2 separate regions of the Homo sapiens genome follow, and region 1 is linked to region 2. Evidence: fine-mapped expression QTL. A gene starts in region 2. The other region holds a variant in brackets. All regions are shown on one strand. Distances are from middle to middle.

Region 1 (2,500 bases), 86 kb after region 2:
CCCAAAGTGCTGGGATTACAGGCGTGAGCCACTGCGCCCGGCCCCTATTTGGCTTTTCACTATGATCAGTTTAAGAGAAGACAGGGCAAGGAGAGAGGACATGTTAGCTAGTTTCAAGTATTCGAAGGGATTTCTTCTAAAGGAGGTATTGAACTTATTTTGCCTGATTCCAGAGGATGGGGAAGGAAGGAAACATCACATGTTCAGCCAAATTAGCCAAGTAAACCTGCTCTCAGTTGCAGCCAGACATCCCTGCCCTTAGATTCTAGGAAAATAGTAAAGAAGACGAAGAACAAGACCTCAGTGTATCCTTTTACTACAAGTGACTGTAAATCAACTATAAAATTAGCCATGTTTGTAAATTAAAGTTATAATTTTGGCCCAATAATTTATAATATATCTGTTTGTTGTTTGTAGGAGTGGTTCTGATTAAAGCCCAGATTTCAGAGCTGGCATTTCCTATTACAGCATCTCAGAAGATAGCGCTAAATGCTCACAGTTCTCTGAAGAGTATTTTTTCTTCTCTTCCCAACATCGTATATACTGGTTGTGCAAAATGTGGATTGGAACTAGAAACAGATGAGAACAGGATCTACAAACAATGTTTTAGCTGCTTGCCATTTACTATGAAGAAAATATATTATAGGTAAGGCAACTAAGCAAGCCAATTTGATGGAAAATAATTATTATAGATCTGGAAAAATTAGTCTGTAAACCCTTACTTTCTAAAAATAATTAACTAGAGCTAGTCGAAGAGAATAAAATTTTCCGAGTGATAGATAGCTATTTATGGAAGCAAAAATTACCCAGGAATCGTTATAGGAATTTCTTAAAGATAGGAATTTCTTAAAGCAGTAATTGGGAGATTTTATTGTCTTCAAACAGCTGTACCAAAGAAACATTTTCCTTGGTTTACTTTTTAACCAAAATCTAAATGCTCATAAATAACTCATTTTCCCACCTTAACATAGAATTTAAGGGCTAAAAGTATCATATGATCTCACCTCTGAGTTGTTGTGGAAGCTAGTAAGACATTTAAGGTGTTTTCCCACCTTTACCTTAGAAATTAAAGCTAGCAAATAAATGTTGTATGGTAAAACTGCTAATCAGCTCAGTGAAAAACACATTGTTTTTTGAATAATAGGTAGTCAAAAGCTCAGATATTTTTCTCTTTACCTCATAAATTACATGTGTTTACAAAATAGCACTCAGTGTTTTATGCTCCTTATGATTATTTCTAAATATTGCGGTATCTAAAAACCAAATTCAGATATATTCCACATGTTATCATGGCATACTTCAAGAAAAGTTATAGAAGCTTAATTTGTAAACCTTATTTCTCTTTACAGATATTATGTTTGTTATAAATAAGTGAATAAATTTTGCTATTACTGTGAAAGTTGCTTTTGTGGAAAAGAAGATTGAATTAAGATGTATGGTAGGCTGGGTGTGGTGGCTCACGCATGTAATCCCAGCACTTTGGGAGGCCGGGGTGGGGGGATCGCTTGAGCCCAGGGGTTCAAGACCAGCCTGGGAAACATAGGGAAACCCCATCTCTAC[C/CA]AAAAAAAAAAAAAAAAAAAAAGCTGGGCAGGTGACATAGGCCTGTAGTCCCAGCTACTTGGGAGGCTGAGGCAGGAGGATTGTTTGAGCCCAGGAGATCGATTGTTACAGTGAGCTATGTTTGCACCACTGCACTCTAGCTTGTGCAACAGAGTGAGACCCTGTCTCAAAATCAAAACAAAAAATGCATGGTATGTAACAAACAACATTGATTTATTAATAGTTAAGGCCCCTCAAAAGTATGTATAGGTGACTTATTTATGTCATTCCAAATGTTTCTATTCAATATAAGCATTTATTGGACAAAAATGTTGCTCAATACTATTCCTTATGGGGAGGAGGGCCTTTGAATCTTTAGTTTACAAAATGACTGTTCAAGAGAAGGACTTCACAGATCAGTATCACCTGATTATGGCATAACTAGTATGAGGTATTTAAGATCTCTTCCTAAACTATACCACATTAAAGATGTAGTGCTAGTTTGTTGTCTTACTAGAATGTTGAATGGTCATGTTAAGGCAAGAATTATTATTTTTTATTTATTTACAAGCCTTTTTTTTTTATTTTTTGAGACAGAGTTTCGCTCTTGTTGCCCAGGCTGGAGTGCACTGGTGCGATCTCAGCTCATCGCAACCTCTGCCTCCCAGGTTCAAGTGATTCTTCTGTCTCAGCCTCCCAAGTAGCTGGGATTACAGGCATGTGCCACCACGCCTGGCTAATTTTGTATTTTTATAGAGACAGGGTTTCTCCATGTTGGTCAGGCTGGTCTCGAACTCCTGACCTCAGGTGATCCACCCGTCTCAGCCTCCCAAAGTGCTGGAATTACAGGTGTGAGCCACCAAGTGCAGCCTAAAAGCCTTTAAATTGTTATTAGAGTCCAGATTATATGGTTTCCTTGAAAAGAAAATATTGAAATTAACAAACTCCCTTCAAGTTATCA
Region 2 (3,021 bases):
CAACCTGTAAATTTACTGTCAGGACGCCAGGTGTTTATTTGTCAGAGATATTACATTGCTTGTGATTTTTTTGTGTTTTTCCTTTTTTTTGGTATAAAACAGAACTTGTCAGAATGGGAAAATTACTTAATTGAAACGATTAACGCGTGATTAGTAAATTCCTTTGGTTAATAAAACTGTCTAGATTTCAAACTTAGAAGCCAAGTCATTTTCTATGTTCGGATATCATCTGTCACTATTGGAACAGGAGTGAACAAATACCAGAAAATAATTTGACAGCTTGCATTTAGGGGAGACTCACAAAAGCCCAAGAACACTGACGAGGCATTATCACACGGGCAGGTCATTCCCTTTCCTAGAAGTGCATTTCGGCAGGACCCGCCGTGTGTGACACAGACACCGGGACCAAAAGGAGACCGGTGCAGCGTCTACTCTGCATGCAAGATCAGCATATACAGAGGCCCGGGGTGACGGCGCGGGGGAGGGGGCAGGCCAATCGCATGATGATTTTAAGGCGGAAAAATCACCATCCACAGAGCCGGCCACATCCGAGGCGGGGTGACCCGGGCGGGGACCCGGCCCGCTCCAGCTGGGCTGGGCTGGGCTGAGCAGCGGCCCCGCACCGGCAGGAGGCCGGAGGGGAGGGCCGCAGGGGAGGCAGGGAGGGCGGGACGGGGCCCGGCCGACGCTCACCTCCCTTGCAGGGCGTGCGGTGCTGGCTGTGCTGGGCCCGGTAGCCTTCGATGACCTCCCAGGAGCCGTCGTCGCGCCGGATGGGGAAGGAGAGACTCAGCACATGGTTGCAGGGCTTGATGATCCGCAGGATGCCGCGCACCCGGTTCCGCTTCTGCTCCTCGCTCTCCCGGGTCCTCAGGTCCTCCACCAGCTTGTCCTCCACGATGCTGGCGCCGCGATCGAAGAAGCCCTCCACCATCTTGAAGAAGTTGGGGTCGTCCTCGCGGTCGGCCACCGCCTCGCTGTAGTGGCGCCGGGCGGCCAATGCCAGCCCCGGCTGCGGGGCGGCGGCGGGCTGTCCCCGGGCCCAGCCCAGCAACGCGGCCGAGTCGGCGGACGCCGAGCCCAGGGCAGCGGGCCCGGCCCGGGACAGCAACAGCGCTTCGCCCAGGTAGCGGTACATGGCCACAAGCGGAGGGGAGGTGCGTGATGGTCGCGAAACAGGCGCGCTTTCTCAGACTCCCCGCGACTAGGGAGGAAGGGTCCCGCGCGGGTTGCCCTTTTAAGCCGCAGCTTCCTGCTTGCCCGGCTGTCCCCTCCCCTCGGGCGCTCGCCACCTAACGGGGAGGACGGACTTCGGGGACAGGGCGCCGCCCAGGGCGCCGGGCCTCCGCCTCCGCCGCGGCCTCCCCGGGCCTCGCTGGCGGCAGCGCGCGCCGGCGGGGCGTCGGGGGCGCGCAGGCGCGGGCGGGCTCGGCGCGCACGCTCGCGCGCCAGTGGGGAAGGGAGGGGAGGGGAGAGGAAGGGCGGGGAGGAGAGTGGAGGGGAACGGACGGGAGGGGCAGGGAGGGGAAGGTCGGGGCGGGTCGGGGCGGGTCGGGGCGGGCCCACGGGCGGCCGGATTTGCCCGGAGGCCGCACCCGCCTCCGGCGGGGCTCTCAGGTATGTGCGCCGCGGGGGTCCCTCAGGGGGGTTGGGGGTAGCCCAGGGAGGTCGGGGTCGGGGGCTGGCCTCTGTAGGGCGCTCAGAGGCCGAGTCCCCCCGAGCGCCGCGTGGGTGAGGCTTGGCGGTCTGGTCGGGGACCGGGTCATGTGAGTCACGGGCGCCCCTCCTTTCCGCCCGCGCGCCCTCGGAACGGGCGGCCCACCCTGGCCTGTCCTCTGGCGGCCTCAGGCCGGGGCCGGGCGTGCAGGGGCTGACACGTGGGCAGGAAAGCGAGGCAGAGCCGCCGCCGCGTAAGGCCGGGCTGAGGGCTCGGCGTCACCAGCCAGGGCTGCAGAGAGCGGCGTGGCACCCGGAGTTGGATTATGCGTGGCTGGCGTGAGCTGGAAGGGAGTCACTCGCCCACAAGCTCTCACCACGCGAGCTTTTATTGTCCCGTTCAACTGCTCCGCAGTGTGGAGATCGCATAGTTACGCACGTCGTGGTTGTGTCGCCCCACAGTACTGACTGCTTCACCTTTGCAGACAGAGGCTCCGGCCCGGCGCGGTGGCTCACGCCTTTAGTCCTAGCACTTTGGGAGGTCGAGGCTGGAGGATGGCTTGAGCCCAGGAGTTCGAGGCTGCAGTGAGCTACGATAGCTCCACTGCACCCCAGCCTGGGCAACAGAGGGAGACCCTATCTCCCTCTGAAATAGTCTAAAATAAGGAAACTAGAAATGCGATAATGCCCCCAGGAAATTCTTTCTCAGGAATATATGTATTTGTTAAATGGTTCAGTATATGATTTATTTTTTATTTTATTTATTTATTTGAGATGGAATCTTGCTCTGTCGCCCAGGCGGGAGTGTAGTGGCACCATCTCGGCTCACTGCAGCTTCCACCTCCCTGGGTTCGTTCTAGCGATTCTCCTGCCTCAGCCTCGGGGTAGCTGGGATTACAGGCCCGCGCCACCACGCCCGGCTAATTTTTGCATTTTTAGTAGAGACGGGGTTTCGCTGTGCTGGCCAGGCTGGTCTCCAACGCCTGACCTCAAGTGATCCGCCCGCCTAGGCCTCCCAGAATGCTGGGATTACAGACGTGAGCCACCGCGCCTGGCCTCAGTATATGATTTATAAGCTTTATGCTGTATGAGGGTTCAGTTATGTATTTATACATACTTGATAGGAAATGCTAAAGTTCACATTCCTATGGATAGCTTTTGGTGCTTTTCAAACTAACGAGGCTGGCACGGTGGCTCACGCCTGTAATCCCAGCACTTTGGGGGCCAAAGCAGGCTGATCGCTTGAGGCCAGGAGTTCAAGACCAGCCTGGGCTCGTCTCTATAAAAAGAAAATAAAAAATAAAGCTCTAATGACAGTCATTAAAACTAGCTGCCAAACACCACATTACTAGCGTTAGCGGTCTC

The links.
Region 1: its variant is fine-mapped to the expression of SHLD2 in whole blood (INTERVAL, PIP above 0.99).

The regions. Positions count from the first base shown.
Region 1 is chr10:87,179,658-87,182,157 of GRCh38, forward strand. It overlaps SHLD2 (shieldin complex subunit 2), which reads left to right. Exons shown (of 10, transcript NM_001330112.2): 8 at 418-646. Among named protein-coding and RNA genes, the nearest start is that of NUTM2A, 45 kb to the right of the region's middle. The variant C/CA (reference allele first, on the strand shown) is at 1,561.
Region 2 is chr10:87,093,632-87,096,652 of GRCh38, forward strand. It overlaps SHLD2 (shieldin complex subunit 2), which reads left to right and starts at 1,575. Exons shown (of 10, transcript NM_001330112.2): 1 at 1,575-1,617. GLUD1 (glutamate dehydrogenase 1) reads right to left here and starts at 1,212. Exons shown (of 13, transcript NM_005271.5): 1 at 694-1,212. The coding sequence starts at 1,138. RefSeq lists silencers at 446-785, 986-1,125, 1,246-1,945, 1,866-2,123 and an enhancer at 2,166-2,225.